5 linked regions of the Homo sapiens genome follow. The protein of the gene in region 5 purifies or fractionates together with the protein of the main gene of each other region. This does not show direct contact. Each region holds a gene or a part of one and is shown on either strand. Other genes may lie near its edges. The genes, in order: SMYD2, HELZ, PRRC2A, USP54 and CELA1.

Evidence for each region.
Region 1: the proteins of CELA1 (region 5) and SMYD2 purify together in Homo sapiens (affinity purification with mass spectrometry; 2 studies listed by BioGRID and IntAct, with this or other methods). This does not show direct contact.
Region 2: the proteins of CELA1 (region 5) and HELZ purify together in Homo sapiens (affinity purification with mass spectrometry; 2 studies listed by BioGRID and IntAct, with this or other methods). This does not show direct contact.
Region 3: the proteins of CELA1 (region 5) and PRRC2A purify together in Homo sapiens (affinity purification with mass spectrometry; one large-scale study listed by BioGRID and IntAct). This does not show direct contact.
Region 4: the proteins of CELA1 (region 5) and USP54 purify together in Homo sapiens (affinity purification with mass spectrometry; 2 studies listed by BioGRID and IntAct, with this or other methods). This does not show direct contact.

Annotation. Positions count from the first base shown.
Region 1 is NC_000001.11:214,287,655-214,291,173, forward strand, and holds part of SMYD2 (N-lysine methyltransferase SMYD2), read left to right. Parts: intron 1-3,519. UniProt on the Homo sapiens protein: Protein-lysine N-methyltransferase that methylates both histones and non-histone proteins, including p53/TP53 and RB1. Specifically trimethylates histone H3 'Lys-4' (H3K4me3) in vivo. The activity requires interaction with HSP90alpha.
Region 2 is NC_000017.11:67,105,695-67,109,213, forward strand, and holds part of HELZ (probable helicase with zinc finger domain), read right to left. Parts: coding exon 3,422-3,519; intron 3,033-3,421; coding exon 2,798-3,032; intron 1,992-2,797; coding exon 1,475-1,991; intron 1-1,474. UniProt on the Homo sapiens protein: May act as a helicase that plays a role in RNA metabolism in multiple tissues and organs within the developing embryo.
Region 3 is NC_000006.12:31,627,208-31,630,726, forward strand, and holds part of PRRC2A (protein PRRC2A), read left to right. Parts: intron 1-557; coding exon 558-1,032; intron 1,033-1,936; coding exon 1,937-2,127; intron 2,128-2,340; coding exon 2,341-2,638; intron 2,639-3,383; coding exon 3,384-3,519. UniProt on the Homo sapiens protein: May play a role in the regulation of pre-mRNA splicing.
Region 4 is NC_000010.11:73,514,833-73,518,351, forward strand, and holds part of USP54 (ubiquitin carboxyl-terminal hydrolase 54), read right to left. Parts: intron 2,916-3,519; coding exon 1,543-2,915; intron 1-1,542.
Region 5 is NC_000012.12:51,329,675-51,333,193, reverse strand, and holds part of CELA1 (chymotrypsin-like elastase family member 1), read left to right. Parts: intron 1-3,360; coding exon 3,361-3,510; intron 3,511-3,519. UniProt on the Homo sapiens protein: Serine proteases that hydrolyze many proteins in addition to elastin.

The sequences.
Region 1 (3,519 bases), on a different chromosome or scaffold from region 5:
GTTCCCCAGAATTAATGATGGGGTCTGGGATTAGTTTTCAGTATTTTTCAAAACCTAATGGAAATAATATAATATACCTACACAGGTAAACCTTCTTCAAAAAAGAGCCTTTTCTCACTCCAAAGTCTTAGGCACTTTAATATTCTTTTAATAAGAAAAAACAAATATTTATAGAGAGAAATGGAAGAAAACAGAATTTTCCACATTGCAAGGATATCAGGGTTCCTTCTGCCTTTTACTTTCAGCACAATTGTTTCAACAGCAGCAAGGAGCCATCCTTTAAGACTTCAAATGTGCCAGTAACTCACGTTATTTTTCATATGCGGGGAACATAATTTCTGTTATAGCTTATAGGGGCTCAGTGACCAAGCTGCACGTTTGGAACCGATTTCAGATGAAAGAGACAGAATAACAGCAGGATATCCTGAAGTGAAATTCAAACCCTGGTGAGTTAAAACCACCATCTAACACCTTTCCCTCCCGAAGCAATTGCACAGAATCCTCTCAATCAAAAAAAATTCGAAGAACCTGTATAAAATGGCATTTCTTTAAATCATATTGCTCTTTGCAGCCCATAAAGCATTTCCAGATACATTCTTATTTTGATCCTTCCAAGGATGGCTGGTATACACAGGGCCTTATTCCATTTTACATAGAAAGAAACTGAGTGTTAGAGAAGTTAAGTGGTTTCTCTGAATTTCACACCTTTTTTGTCAAATATTTATTGAGTGCCTCTTAAAGGCCGGACTCCATGACCTTCAAGGATGGAGCCAAATCTCCCTGTTCCTCGTGTGATCTTCCTGTGCCCCCCTTTGGCCTGAACCTACTGTGTGGTTCACCCAGGGACTTCACCCTACATTACTACTGTGTGGTTCCCTGGAGACTGGGGGCTTAATCCGTCTCTGATATCTCCTTGATTGAATAGAATTTATAATTGGCCAACAATTTAACAAACGAATGCATTGTTTAAAGAATTATTTAAAGTTTTAAAAAATGTTTGATTCAGCCATCTTAGATCTATATTTTATGCTGATATGGACTTAAACATGTTGTTTTTATTATAATGCTTTGAAATTTGCATAAGAGCTACACATATTCTTTTATATGTATGAATTATTATGTAATAAAACATAAAAAGAACATGAGGCTTTGGTCCTTTTGTAGGCTTGGAATATTTTTAATATTACGCTAGGACTAAACCAGAGTTAGTCATCTCAGCCTTTATACCTACATATAAAGAGTTTGTTTCTGTGCCGTGTGATAGGGCAGCATCAGCCCATAGTCTTTTTTTTTTTTTTTTCCTTAAGCAAATCCATTCTTCAGGATCTCTCTCTGCAGAAGTTAAATCTCTTGAGTTGTGGAAATGGAATTTATGGTGCAGCTATAGGAGGCAGCCCCTGGTTGGTATTCCTGTAGAACAGGCAAGTTGCACACCACCTGTGAGAAGGTTCTTGTAAAAATATGTTAAATTTCTTTGAGAAGATCCAGGGCTCACTGCTATAGTTTGGCAGGAACCTGGTCTTTGGGAGAACTCAGAATTGGTGAGAATTCAGGACAGCAAAATTGTCTCTTTTAGGATTTGATATAGTGAGAGAATTGCAAAGGAAGTTTCTACTGTATTTGGGTGTTTTAGGCTTACTGCTTTGAACTTAGGTTAATATTCCCTCCTCTTTTCCCTGTCAGTATAAAAATATGAAATAATTACTGTTTTATGCCACTTTATTTCTGTCCTCGAAGGAAGCAATCAATAATTAAAAGCATGCTTTGTCTTCCTGGAGTCATGAATAATTAAATTGACTCCCCCCATCCACACACATCTTTTTTTGGACCTCAGATGTAGTTGAGGTAATCATACTTCTGAGTTCAAGGCATGCTTTTATCTGGTATATGCAAGGCAAATTTGATTTTTCAGAATGTTCCCTCTCATTTCCTGCTCTTCTCACAGACAGCTCCTCTATGGGTTTGGTTACGTATCTTTGAATACATGTGTATGTGTGTCCTGATGATCACTAGGGAACTAGACACACCTAGAACAAGGCACCCTGATTTTACTTGGCAGATTCAGACCTTGAGCTCTCTTCTGATCCTCCTGCTCACTCAGCGTTTTTCTGTGGCTGTGTCAGGGCAGGGGCCCCTGCACTGGCCCCTTCCTCCTGATGAGTGGCCTGTTCTGACACTTGAGGGAGGCAGGGCATTTTGAGGTCTCCTTTGCCTCTCAGGAACTTGCATTGTTAGCCCACCCACATCCCCAACCTTCACTTCTTTGGATTTCTAGGAAATCTGCAGTAGTTTAGGGGTGCAGTCCTTTGGCAGGGAATTAACTGAAGTACCTGCCTTTTCAGGGGTTGAACCCATGACCTTGGCCTCATTAGAGCTCTAACCAGTCACAAAGCACACACCTCACTTTGTGTAACTTCTGCTGACTTGTTCCTGCCACCCTCCGCGGCTTCCTATTCAATTGCAAAGGCGTTCACACCAACACAATAGAACAGAAGGAAATCAGATCTCTTCAAGACTTCTCTGAAGGACAGAAATATGCAATTTAGCAGGAAAATAATACAAAAAAGTCTTGAAGGTTCAGGAAACAACTTATCTTTCTAGTCCGTACATTCGCTGAGAATCCAGCTGTGTCTCTCAGATTCTTTTTCAATCAAAAATTTAAAAATAGCGTGGAACTCCTTGTGTTAATTTATTAACATAAAATCTAGCGACTCTTGTACATGAAGTGGAAGGTTTCGGATGACTAAGTGGAAATATTGTATGTATGTTATTAAAATGGATTGGGTTAGCTTTTATAGAAAAAGTGGATCTGAGAATTCATAAGTGCTTATCTTTGGCAAGTTTATAGTCCCTAGAGATAAAAATGAATGCGTGCTATAATAACAAAGACACTGTTGTGTCTTAGTGAGTGCACTGTGATGCTCAGGGTGTGTTGGTGCCCAGGGGACGCGGAGTCACCATGGAGGAGAGGAGAAACAAGGACAACTCCCTAGAGAAGTGAAATTCACACAGGGCTTGAAGACCTGAATGTATCTTGGGGGAGGGACGTGGTAAGATAATCTGGCTGTCCAAAAAGATACAGGTTTTTATTAGAGCCAAATAAAAAGCTCAAGGATTTTATGTCTTGGCACTTGGAAGGAGTTATGTTGAAATCTGTGTTCTGTTTAATCTGAGTACCAAGAAAGACTCTTCAGGGATGTAGGTACTGGCTCATATTTTTGATGAGATGGGGATTTTTCTTACTCTGGTGATGTTTGGATAGGAAACATTTGCTCATTTGCCACCTGAAAAATCTCTTCTCTGTCAATTCCGTGAATCCATGGTACAGTGACAGTTGCTGTTCACAGTGATAGCCTCATATGCTCTTAAAACCTCACCAATAAGACACATTTAATTATGAGCCAATAGTATACTCCCTAAGGGTAGGAATTCTACTTTTTAACTCAATCAAAAACATTTGTATTTGTGGACACTTAGTGGGTTCTATAGTTCTGGAAAACAACTCCAAAGAAAAGGAAC
Region 2 (3,519 bases), on a different chromosome or scaffold from region 5:
ATCTGAAAGACTGTCAGATGTGTGCCAAATTTTTGTAAAGTATGGTTCCAAAATTCTAGATCCTCACAATACATATATGTAGATACCAATTCATCTTTATTGTGCTTCTAACTTACTTTAAGAGCCTAAAATCACAGTAAGTTGTTTTAATGACAGCTATACAGAATGAGCCAATCAATGAATACTGGGACAATTTGAACAGACTGCCTCTAAATCCCTACAAATAAGACATACAGCTTTCCCTATGAATCTTGACTTTTAATTAGCATCTATAGCAGGCAACTTGTAAAATGTGAATCAATTATTTCTAATGGCCTTTAGATATCATTCTGAAACTGCCAAAATGAAGCTAATATCAAAAAAGTATTTTTCATATATCAAAATTAGAAATCTTTATCCTGATTTAAGATGTCTCTGTCTGATATGACTACAACCGGCTTTACACATTTTTATCTTTAATCACTGCAAATTTAATGGGATCAGCTAGACATTTTTGTAGCCTACACCACATGGTACTGCTTTGGAAGTTTTATAACCTGGAATTACTAAGTTTTTCATAGGAAAAAAAAGTCCATAAAGATGCTCTTTAGAAATATCTAAGTATTTTACTTTATTTATTTATTTTTTTTTTTGAGACAGAGTCTTGCTCTGTCGCCCACGCTGGAGTGCAGTGGCATATCTTGGCTCACTGCAAGCTCAGCCTCCCGGGTTCACGCCATTCTCCTGCCTCAGCCTCCCGAGTAGCTGGGACTACAGGCGCCCGCCACCACGCCCAGCTAATTTTTTCTATTTTTAGTAGAGACGGGGTTTCACCGTGTTAGCCAGGATGGTCTCGATCTCCTGACCTCGTGATCTGCCCGCCTCGGCCTCCCCAAGTGCTGGGATTACAAGCGTGAGCCACTGCACCCGGCAGAAATATCTAAGTATTTTAAGATAAAATTCAGTTTAACTTAAAATGCTTAGTTTAGCACAGTCAATTTTATGTTAAAAATCTGCAAATTCTGATATTTGGGAATCAGAGTCCCTGGGTCTAACAAAGCACCAGGCTGAGTGGCAGGAGAAGGAGCACAGCACTTGGAGCTGGCACTGGCTGAAAAGCCAGCATCTTTGGAAAGTTCTCATTAACAAATTTATAATTAACACATGTAACTTAAAGCGAAAAGAAGAATCACTAAAAGCCATTTCCTCAGATTAAAAAAAGACAAAGCTCCTTGAATAGAGTCCTCAGATATTCAATATTTTCTTTAAACAGCAATAAAAGACTTTTAAGGGGCTTCATGTTTCAACAAAAGTGTCCACTTTACAAAACCTGAAATACAATAGGAGGGTGGCAATTAAAATAATTCCCAAGAAAGGATTATCTTTAATACGCTGTTAAATTCAATAAGATCTGTGCCTTCCTATTATCAAATCAATAAATACTGATATTTTTCACAATCAGCTAATAACAAAAGGAAAATAAGAAGACATTTACCTCTTCTAAGCTAGGGAGCGAAGAAGAAGATACTGTTCGAGATGACAATGGGTGAAATGGCTCTTGACCAATAGCATGTTGATGATTCTGTATTTGTACAAAAGGGTTCTGCGGTGGCCTGTGAGGCAATGGAGGTAGGCCATAGGGAAAACCTGGCCCCATTAGGTGATTCTGTTGCAAGTTAGCAAAAGTCCATGCTCCATCAGGTGCCAGGTATTTCAAGGGAGGAGGGGCAAGGTGTTCAGATGGCAACGAGAAAGGTGAGTTGAATATCTGGGGTGGGAGGCGCTGTGGAAATGCTGGGTTGCTGGCTACTTCAATGTCTCTGCTGTTATCATTAAAGTTAGAAAAGTGGCTACTGTGGTCTGTACTGGATGGGGGAGATGGGACTGCTGGTGGGCTTCTACTCTGTACTTGTCTATATTGCAAAAGTCTTGATTGAGGTGGTGGCATTTCAGCTAGTTCCCGTGTTTCACTTTGATCACGATGAGACAGTTCTCTGATTAAGTCTTGAAACCTACATGAAAACAATAAAATATGAGGAGAAAACAAAAGGCTCCATCACATTAAGGAAAGCTTAGTCAACTACACATGTATTTTCAACAAACAAAATCATAGTACTAATAACTAGAACTGGCATTAATTCATCTCAGATGTAAGCATTAACACTCAATAGATGCTGAGGTGAAGAAATTAAATATGCTCAATTACCTGATTTCTTTCTGTTCCCATTGTATTAAAAACATCTGTCCTTGTCTCTATACAGCTTTGACAACTGGAAGTTATAAAAGGTCACCATGATGGTGGACCTTATTCAGAAGGGATTAGGAAACACTTCAGAGCATTCATGTGACACTGGCCACAAAAACAAGCTTAGAGTTAGGACCAAATACTCATATGTAGCTGGAATTATAGGAATGTAGAATTCTGTGCCACCATAAAAATAATTAATGATATAATTTTTAGCTTTTAACCACGAATTTACTCCTGTCTTTATTCATTCTTTGCAAGTATTACTACTAAATAAAAAAAGCTGCTCACAGTGATGGTATGTTTCTCTCGCAGAAAAGACCACAAAGTAAGGGAACAAGTTAATTTCCAACCCATAGTAGATCATCCATGCCTAAATTTGTAGAAGAGTTACTTCTAAATGAGTTTTCTGTATTTTAGAGTCAACAAGAGAACTGTGTAGCGTGTGCTTGGAAGGCCAGCATCCAATTTCTCTGAGGCAATATTCCAGCTTGAAGCTAAAAGGACTACAGTCAAAAAAGAGAACAGTGAGGGGGTCGCATTCCAGGGGCTATTTTCAGTCCGCTGGAATACCTTGAGTATGTGGTCTCCACTTCATCTTCGGCACTGCTGGTGAGCTTCCAGTCTGCCCTCACTGGCGGCTGATGTAATCCCAGGGGCGGCTGAGGAAGATGCTGGAGGTGAGGATGGTGATGGTGTGGGTATGGAGCGCTGCCCTGACTGAGAAAGGCATGATGCTCGCTCCACTGCTGGAACCGTGCCTGCTGCTGCCTTAATGTTTCCAGAGCGACACTCCCATGTATACGATCTGCAAAAATATTTGTGAAAAATTTTTTATGAATTTGGGGTTTCAAGTTCATTATTTAAAGTTTTTTACTAACATATTTTCTCCACAAAGACAAAGGACGTAGCTACAAATTTGGTTTTGGTAAGAAGTAAATGTTTTCTAAATTTGCCAGAAATCAGTTATGGTGATGATGATGACAACTCTTCCTCACTTACATAATGATGATCCTGACATCCACTGGATACTATCATACAGCATTTAGAACTAGTTTCTGATTATCACACTAAATGGGGGGGTTTTGCTAGCATTATTTGAAGAAACAATTCAATCTTAACCCAAAATGATATTATACAGTCCAAGTCATGTTAAGTAATCTCTGAATTTTCACATCTGGCAGTAATAGAACTTACCTAAAGCCTCCCCTATAGGTAATCCCGAGGGGTTCTCATCAATGAAGCTATTCAGATGTGAAGGAAGAATGGGGCCGGGTTGTGCAATGGCTCTCAGA
Region 3 (3,519 bases), on a different chromosome or scaffold from region 5:
TCCAATAAGGGATTGAGAGGGTCAGCTGTGGGAAATTGGTGTCAGCTGAGTAATTGAAGCGGTTGTGATATAGAGGAAGGGGGGTGCTAAAAATGGGCTGTGTGAAGTGCCAGGCTGCAGAACATCCTGGGAAGCTTTTAAATATCTTTGGTAATAGGGGAGTCTGGGTAAGAAGTGAGAAACTGGGATGCTAATGAGGAAAGAAGAAAAAGGAGCCCTGGGTGTTTGGGTTTCGGAAGGAGAGAGGGAACAGAAAAATAAAAAGACTAGGGTGGCTAGATAGCTGGATCTGTTAGTATGCATCAGTAGTCCAAGCTACTCAGCAGGCTGAAGCAGAAGGATCACTTGAGCCCAAGTTCAAGACCAGCCTGGGCAACATAGCAAGACGTGGTCTCAAAGAAGACCAGGATAATGAGTTTGTCACCACCCAGAGAGATCAACCCCAAAGCCTGGGTCGTTGCATCCTGCAAGTAGCGACAGTTGATTTGTTGTAAAAGAGATGATAGAAAGCATAGTAACTGATTCCCCTGGCCCTGCTGGGTCTTGCCAATTGACAGGATCGTGGGGGTCCTCCCTGCAAGCCCCCAGCACCTGAAGATGAGGATGAGGCATGGCGGCAGCGACGAAAGCAGTCGTCATCTGAGATTTCCCTGGCAGTGGAGCGGGCCCGGCGACGGCGAGAAGAAGAGGAGCGGCGCATGCAAGAAGAGCGCCGGGCAGCCTGTGCTGAGAAGCTCAAGCGACTCGATGAAAAGTTTGGGGCACCTGACAAGCGGCTCAAAGCAGAGCCTGCTGCCCCACCTGCTGCCCCTTCTACCCCAGCTCCACCACCTGCAGTCCCTAAAGAACTCCCTGCACCTCCAGCTCCACCTCCAGCATCAGCCCCAACACCAGAGACAGAACCTGAAGAGCCAGCACAGGCCCCTCCTGCCCAATCTACTCCTACTCCAGGTGTGGCTGCGGCTCCCACTCTGGTGAGTGGTGGTGGCAGTACCAGTAGCACCAGCAGTGGCAGCTTCGAAGCCAGCCCAGGTATGGAGATGGGGATAGGTACTACCAGATGTCAGATCACTGCTTCAAGGTGCTTAAAGGTGCAGGGTGGTAAGGCTGGGGATAAATGAAGTAGAAGGCAGTTGTTTTGGTTTATTGGACTATCAGTGATAGTGTTCTATCATTTGTATATCTGAAGGAGGGAAGGTTTTGTCTGGAATCTTAGGTTGTAGTCTAATACCATTTCTTGGCAGAGTACTGTAGCTCACGCCTATAATCCCAACACTTAGGGAGGCTTGGGGTGGAGGATCGCTTGAGCCTAGGGAGTTTGAGACCAGCCTGGGCAACAAAGCAAGACCCTGTCGGCCAGGCATGGTGGCTCACACTTGTAATCCCAGCACTCTGGGAGGCCGAGGCGGGCAGAACATGAGGTCAGGAGTTCAAGATCAGCCTGGCCAACATAGTGAAACCCGTCTCTACTAAAAATACAAAAATTAGCCAAGTGTGGTGGCATGTGCTTGTAGTCCCAGCTGCTTGGGAGGCTGAGGTAGTAGAATCGCTTTAACCCGGGAGGCAGAGATTTCTGTGAGCCAAGACCATGCCATTGCACTCCAGCCTGGGTGACAGAGCAAGACTCTGTCTCAAAAAAAAATCCTGTCTCACAAGAAATACATAAATAAAAATGAAAACTATTTCCTATAGGCCAAGACTGAAGAAAGTACTGTTGTTCTAATGGTTTCATAGAAAGTTAATGCCACCACCATAGGCTCATGAGAGGCCATGAAGTGCTTTAATGGGTCTTAAATGGGAGGGGCTTCAATAGAATAGATGTTGAATAGAATATTTTAGTCTTAAGGGAGCTAGAGATGAGACGTGAGATTCCTGGGGTGTTCATGGAGTGTCTATTGTTGGACTAGATCACTCTGTTGTGTTTTTTCCGATGCAGTGGAACCACAACTGCCCTCAAAAGAGGGTCCTGAACCACCAGAAGAGGTTCCTCCTCCTACCACACCCCCAGTTCCAAAGGTGGAACCCAAGGGTGATGGGATTGGTCCCACCCGCCAGCCCCCTAGTCAGGGCTTGGGCTACCCCAAATATCAGAAGTCGTTGCCTCCTCGTTTCCAGCGGCAGCAGCAGGTGAAATCAAGTTGTTTACCCTCTAAGGGCTGCTTTTCTTCCTGGCTTCGGTCCCTAATTCTCTTCATAAGTTACCTTCTGGGTCCCTTTGCTTCTTTGTCCAGTTGTCTCCATTGTCACGCCAATTTCCCCTAGTCCAAGTTTTTTCTTTGCTGATTCCTTTGTCCATGTGTGCTTTGAGCCTCTCTCATCTTGTCTTTCCTCCTTTCCTAGGAGCAGCTCCTGAAGCAGCAGCAGCAGCACCAGTGGCAGCAGCATCAACAGGGCTCTGCCCCTCCTACCCCAGTGCCCCCATCACCACCACAGCCTGTGACCCTGGGGGCTGTGCCAGCTCCACAGGCTCCACCCCCGCCCCCCAAGGCCCTGTACCCAGGTGCTCTGGGCCGGCCCCCACCCATGCCCCCAATGAACTTTGATCCCCGATGGATGATGATTCCTCCTTATGTGGACCCCCGGCTCCTCCAGGGTCGTCCCCCTCTAGACTTCTACCCTCCTGGTGTGCATCCCTCTGGTAAGGGGGCATGGGAGGAGTGAGAAACAGGAAAGTCCCCTCAGTCTTAGGCATTGGATATTAGGGTCTTACTGTGACTCTGGTACGATAGGTTTTGCCCATCATAGTGATGAGGGAAGGGCATATGCTTGGCACTGCTGAGATAGCTCTGTTGCAAAAATGGGCTTAGTTAAGAAATAAGCAGTGGTTGGCCAGGCATTGTGGCTCACGCCTGTAATCCCAGCACTTAGGGAGGCCGAGGTGGGCAGATCAACTGAGTTCAGGAGTTCGAGACCACCATGGCTAACGTGGTAAAACCCCATTTCTACTAAAAATACAAAAAAGTAGCCGGCGTGGTGGCGCTCGCCTGTAGTCCCAGCTACTCGGGAGACTGAGGCAGGAGAAACGCTTGAACCCAGGAGGTGGAGGTTGTAGTGAGCCGAGATTGTGCCATCGCACTCCAGCTTAGGCAACGAGCGAAACTCCGTCTCAAAAATGAATGAATGAATAGCACAACTCCATCTCAAAAATGAATGAATGAATGAAAGAAGCAGTGGTCCTTCATTTGCCAGGATTTATTTGGGGTGGGTTGATTCTCTTGTAGGGAATCTGAGTGGATAACCTTGTTATATAAGAGCAGGCAAGGCCCGGACCTACTGGGAACAAGAGATGGAAGAGCTGACTTGACCGCGAGGGGAGATGCTTTTTGGGCTGGAGGGCTTGTGACATGAATAGGATTATTTTTCTTTTTCTTTGGTTTCTTCAGGCCTAGTTCCCCGAGAGCGTTCAGACAGTGGGGGCTCAAGCTCAGAGCCATTTGACCGTCATGCACCTGCTATGTTACGGGAACGGGGCACTCCACCGGTGGATCCAAAGTTGGCCTGGGTAGGAGATGTCTTCAC
Region 4 (3,519 bases), on a different chromosome or scaffold from region 5:
AGTTCAAGACCAGCCTGGCCAACGTGGTGAAACCCTGTCTCTACTAAAAATACAAGAGTTAGCCAGGTGTGGTGGTGGACGCCTGTAATCTCAGCTACTTGGGAGGCTGAGGCAGGAGAATCACTTGAACCCGGGAGGCGGAGGTTGCAGTGAGCTGAGATCACGCCATTGCACTCCAGCCTGGGCAACAGGAGTGCAACTCTTCTCAGAAAAAAAAAAAAATGAATAAAAAATCAAATCTTATATTTATGTGGTATTCCCCTCAAAGGCTCTGGAGAACACAGTAAGTACTCAATAAACACTTACTCAACTGTAATTATATGTTGGTTGTCAGCATGCAAGGAACCTGCACCATTACAGAAACTGTCACAGCCAAGCTAAGGAAAAGTTCTCCAAGTTCAATTTCACAGAATCATACATGCCATTTTAGAGTTAGAACATATCTTTTTTTAAAAAAAAAGCCAGTTCTCTCATTTTACAGGTAAAACCTTGGCCCTGGGATATTAAGTGACTTGTCCAAATTTATACTGAGAGTTAATGTTGGAATCAGGAAAATAGTTCAGGCTTTGGAGTTAAGTGCATCAATGTAAGTTACAAACATTCTTCATGTCTTCAATTTCCAGAACTGACTATGATGTGCACTTCAGGTGCAGGCTCTACTCTTCACTCTGTATTATCTCAGTCAGTGGCTACCCTGTAGGCATATAGTACATTAAAAATTCCTTGAACACCAAACTTGACTTTTCCTAAAGGGATCAGGAAGGTCTTGATATTGCTGGTTCAGTATGATCTGGAAATGTCCACACTGAGCATATGGACATCCTACTGCAAAGCAGACCTGGAGGCTGAATCTTGGGATTCTAAGCCATAGAAGAATATATTTTCCTCTCAGCCTCCCTCCATTTCATGCTGTCATGCTGAATCACTCTCAAACACCTATGAACCATTCTTTTTTTTTTTTTTTTTTTGAAACGGAGTCTCATTCTGTTACCCAGGTTGGAGTGCAGTGGTGCGATCTCAGCTCACTGTAACCTCTGCCTCCCGAATTCAAGTGATTTCCCTGCCTCAGCCTCCCGAGTAGCTGGGACTACAGGCAAGTACCACCACGCCCGGCTAATTTTCTGTATTTTTAGTAGAGAAGGGGTTTCACTATGTTGGCCAGGATGGTCTCGATCTCCTGACCTTGTGATCTGCCCGCCTCGACCTCCCAAAGTGCTGGGATTACAGGAGTGAGCCACCGTGCCCGGCCCTGAACCATTCTTTAGCACAGCATACTGGAGAAGCCATGGGCAAATACTTAGTAATCTCTTACTTTAGAAGGAGGGAAGTTGCCTATGAGTGGTAATTCTGCCCCTTCCTCCACTCTAGCCAGAAAAATGTCTAGGTCTTGTCCTGAAGGCTTTCTGAGTAAAGTCAAAAGTTCTATTACCTCCTACTAAGCTGGGGATAGTATCTGTATAGAACACTCCCTTCTGATCTTTCCCTGCTTTCAGCTTTTATATGATCCTCCCCCCTCCCCCCAACCCCTGGTTGCATTCTTACCTGTTTGGCTAAGTGGGTGCCAGGCGGTATCCTGCTGCCCCCATCCAGAACAGCCAGCTTGAGAAGCCTGAAGACTGGCCTGATACAGAGACTCCAATTCTGAGGTCTCCTGCTCTGTGTCTTGGTTCCAATGTGGATGCAAAAGGATGTGATTTCTCTCTGGATAGGTTACACACGTATGGGAATCATGAGGGGAGGACTTCATTCCTGGCCTAGGTGCCCCATGCTTAAGCTGAGAATCACAGAACCTTGTGATATTCACCCAGGAATCCAAAGGCAAGGAAGTCCCCAAGTCAGTACTGCTGCCCAGATCCTTAGACCTAACATCTCTCACTTGGGACAGCTTCTCTTGGTATATGTCTGGCTCTGCCAACCTGGGCTGTCCTCCGCTAGAAGTTTCACCATTAGGCAGCCCAGAGTTTAAGGCAAGAGAAGAATGTTCAGTGGACTCTTCCCAGGAAAGTGGTCTATCCCCACCCTCCAGAGAGGATTGTTGCTTTGCCCATGGCCAGTGGCCTTTCTCTTGACCCTGTGAGAAAGGAGGCTTAGAATCAGAAGGGGAAGAGTTCTTCCTTAGACTACCTGACAAACTTCTATCCTTGAAACCTGTACTATCCCTCATGGAGACACCCTGCATCCTCTGGAACTGCTCAGCCAGAGAACGGACAAGCCCCTTTGTGCTGGGAAACTCTGGCCTATAGGTCTCCTCACTGCCTCTGTCCACTTTTAAAGTCAATGAAGTTTTGAGGCTTTGGCCTTGGAGGCATTGGTTAGTTTTCTGCACAGGATCAGGACAGTGAAGCACAAATGAAGAAGCAACAGGCATTATGGGGTGGCAGGTTCTATACAGGGGAAGGCTGGGCTGAGCTGATGAATTTGAAGGACTACAGCCTAGGCTGTGTTCATCACCCCTCTCAGAGGTGGCTATTCCAGGCATCACCGGGGAGGGGTTAGCAGGATCCTTCTTTTCTTGGAACAGCTGTTCTTGAGCAATGCCTCTTCCTTCTTGTGGAGGGAGCTTGCTGCAACTGCTGTTGTCACACCTAGAGCCTTGCAGCTTACCCTCTGGGGCATCCAATGGCTCCCAACTATGATGAGAATTCTTCTCAGTCCACCCTGGTGCTTTAGGTAAACCTTGCCTGTGGAATGCAGAGGGTTCAATGTTGTCTACTTCAACCGAAGTCAGAAGCTTCAAGGCAGATCTACTGGGGGAGCTGTGCTGTGGGGCAGATGACTCTGGAGATAGTGATGAGTGTGACTCATGGCAGGAAGCAGGTGAATGGAAGAAAGAACTGGCCCCAAACTCTGTATCCATGCCGGATTCCAGTTGGGCCTCTTGGCTTAACAATACTTGGAGCGGGATAGGCTGTTCACTGAAACAAATGGAGAGAGCTAGTCATAAGCTGCCTTGACTGACAGGAACACTTACAGAAAGAACTCAACATTCCATTCCCATTTCTAGCTATTCACACAGGGAATGGTAAAAATAAACAGAAAGACAAGCACAAGTAGAGTCAGTAGTTCAGAGGATCACAAAAGAAAAGGCACATGGTCAGCTCACACTCAGGTAAATAGGTAACGTTAATCCTCTTTATTAAACACCCTCACCAAAGTTGCACAGTAACATTAAGTGGAGCCCTTGCCAATATTCTTCACTACCTGTGAAGTCGCATTCCAATCACATTCTACTTGCAAATTAGGAAACAAAATCAGCTAGTCTCACATGCAGATGACATGGAAGGTAAGCAAAGCCTGAAAATCACTCATACCAAACAGCAAAAATCCAGGATGCTATACAGGGAGGCAAGTCCTACCTGGGGTCCTGAGAGGCAGCCCGGCCAAAGGAACTATGAGGCCACATTTACAAAATACAGGGTGATTTGGGCTCATGGGAATACACAGAAATTAACCATTTCAAATATGTTTTTATAATCTGGATTTTGTTCTATTAGTCACTGAGATGTTTCCCCAAAGCAA
Region 5 (3,519 bases):
GAACCTAGGAGGCGGAAGTGGCAGTGAGCTGAGATCATGCCATTACACTCCAGCCTGGGCAACAAGAGCGAAACTCAGTCTCAAAAAAAAAAAAAAATTAACGGGGAGTGGGGCTACACATCTATACTCCCAGCTACTCAGGCGGCTGAGGCAGGAGAATCACCTGAACCTGGGAGGTGGTGGTTGCAGTGAGCCGAAATGGCACTACTGCACTCCAGCCTGGACGACAGAGCGAGACTCCATCTCAAAACAAACACACACAGAATTATCCCAGTTTGAAATTTTGGTCTCTTTCCCTAGTTTTTTTTAAGTTTTACTTTTGTTTGTTTGTTTTTGAGACAGAGTCTTGCTCTGTTGCCCAGGCTGGAGTACGGTAGCGTGATCTCAGCTCACTGCAACCTCCTCCTCCTGGGTTCTTGTGCCTCAGCCTCCTCAGTAGCTGGGATGACAGGCATGAGCCACCATACCTGGCTAATTTTTTTTGTATTTTTAGTAGAGTCGGGGTTTCGCTATGTTGGCCAGGCTGGTCTCAAACTCCTGGCGTCACGTGATCCACCCACCTCGGCTTCCCAAAGTGCTGGGATTACAGGTGTAAGCCACCACACCTGGCCCCAAGTTTTACTTTTTATTGAAGCTTAAATTGGCAAATAAGATTATGGGGCTCAATAATGGAAAAGAATAGCTACTCTAGTTCTCCCACCCCATGGGAGGCCACTTTCAACTCTTCAGCTGATTCTTTTGGTGTCTACATCTTTAAAATTATATACTTACACTGCTATTTTTGTGTTGACATTATGGCAGATGTGATTCTCTTTATTTTTTATATATACATACCTGCCCTCCAAGCATGACATTTTCTGATCACCATCTCAACCTCTCAAAATATTTTGGTTAGATCAACATTCGGCATTTACTATGATTATATAAAATGCTATTTACAACAAAATCATGTAATATATTCTAGGTTTACTTTTCATTTGCTGCATAACTTTTTTTTTTTTTTTTTAAAGAGACAGGATCTTACTCTGTCACCCAGGCTGGAGTGCAGTAGCACAATCACAGCTCACTGCAGCCTTGAATTTCTGGGCTCAAGAAATCCTCCCACCTCAATCTCCTGAGTAGCCAGGACTACAGGCACATGCCACCACACTCAGCTGATTTTTTAAAATTTTAATAGAGATGGGGGTCTCGGTTTGTACCCCAGGCTGGTCTCAAACTCCTGGCTTTAGCTTAAGCAGTCCTCCTGCCTCAGCCTCCCAAAGTGCTGGGATTACAGTCATAAACCACCAAGGTCAGCCCTTGCTGCACAACTTTTTCAATTTTTTCAATGTCTGTTAAAAATTGTCTTTTTCATTTGCTTAATATAGTCAGTTTTTCATTAATTCAACCCCACACACTCCACTAATTTGTTAAGTGACCTATATCATCTTCTCTTGACCTAGTGGTCTATGTGGATCTATTTGCATTCGTTGTGAGGGATACTTAATGGGTGGGTTTTCCCGGAAACTCCAGACCTTTGATCCAGAAAATGTTGTTTATTTGTTGATTTCCTCCCACTCTATTTTCACTTTTCTCTTTCTAGAATTTCTGTTATTCACATGTTTGCCTCCTAAGCTGGTCCTCTTGTTTTCTCTATATCTTGTTTGTTCTATCTTATGTTCCAACTCTTCCAGTCTCTCATTTCTAAATCTATCAAATCTGTAATTTCCAAAGGCTCTTTTTGCTGTCTGAATGTTGTTTAGTAGTATGCCGTTCTTGTATCATGGATGCATATTAGTCATGTTTTTTGTTTGTGTGTTTGTTTTGAGACGGAGTCTCGCTCTGTCGCCCAGGCTGAAGTGCAGTGGTGCAATCTCAGCTCACTACAACCTCCAGCTCCTGGGTTCAAGCGATTCTCCTGCCTCAGCCTCCTGAGTAACTGGGATTACAGGCATGTACCACCACGCCCGGCTAATTTTTGTATTTTTAATAGAGTTTTAGGGGTTTCACTGTGTTGGCCTAGTCTTGAACTCCTGACCTCAGGTGATCCGCCCGCCTCAGCCTCCCAAAGTGCTGGGATTACAGGTGTGGAGCCACCATGCCCAGCCTATTAGTTATGGTTTTATTGCTTGTTTTCTTCTCCCTGCATAGTCTTGGTTGCCTTCATTTTTTTATTTAGCTCCTTGTTTCTTTGTTTCAATCTTTATTTTTATATTAGATGAATTCCTTTTTTTTTTTTTTTTTTGAGACAGAGTCTCACTCTGTCGCCCAGGCTGGAGCCCAGTGGCGCCATCTTGGCTCACTGCAAGCTCTGCCTCCCGGGTTCACGCCATTCTCCTGCCTCAGCCTCCCGAGTAGCTGGGACTACAGGCGCCCACCACCACGCCCGGCTAATTTTTTGTATTTTTAGTAGAGATGGGGTTTCACCGTGTTAGCCAGGATGGTCTCGATCTCCTGACCTCGTGATCCGCCCGCCTCAGCCTCCCAAAGTGCTGGGATTACAGGCATGAGTCACTGGGCCCGGCTAGAGGCATTCTTTAGATGTTTAGTGATCCTTAACCATCTGCTTTTATTTCAGAGTGGGGGTGGTATTTTTACCCAGAGTGGGTGGGCTGATTGGTAGCTCTGAGCCTTAGATGGGGTTCATCAATAGTGGATTCTCTGTCAGGTGATCTGGCTAGGCCATTTTAGTGGAGGACCTCCAATGTCAGTATCTTTAGGTCTTTCCTCTTGGACTGTTCAGTTTTTCCAGAGAAGTATCTTCCCATTTTATGTGTGGCATTATGGACCTGGCATTCTAGAAGCTGAGTAAGAAGGGAGGCAAGATCATATTCCATAAACCCAGGTTCCCAGTTGAGCATGTGACCTAATACATCACTTTCCTCTTCATTCCAGTTTAGTTTAGCATGTTTTGACTACCAAGTCTAAATACTTGGTCTAATTATACCCATTGGTCTAAATGCTGGGGATAAAGAAATTATTAGAATGCCCTATTTTTGCCACCCCAGGTTCAATTTAAGCCAATAAAAGCGATTGAACTTTAGATATTTAAAGTTCTATGCTAGCATTGTGGAGAGGAAAGATCTTGGTAAGAGTTTTTGTCTCAGGAAGCTCATAGACATGTGTGAGGAGGTACAAACAAATTATGAAACCAAAATACAAGGCAGAACATGAAATAAGTGCAGCAAAAGAGAAGAAGTATTGTGGTTGTTTAGAAAGGAAGAAGAGATTCATTTTGATTGTGGGGACATGAAGGAGGTGGAGATTTGCATTGGAGCTTTAAAACCGTACAGAATTTCACAACCAGAGACGGGGGCGGGGGGAGTGCAAGCAAAAGCCCGAAGATCTGGAGTTTTAGGATTCTGTTTCTCCTCCCTGCAGGGTGACTCTGGGGGCCCCCTCCATTGCTTGGTGAATGGCAAGTATTCTGTCCATGGAGTGACCAGCTTTGTGTCCAGCCGGGGCTGTAATGTCTCCAGGAAGCCTACAGTCTTCACCCAGGTCTCTGCTTACATCTCCTGGATAAATAATGTGAGTCCT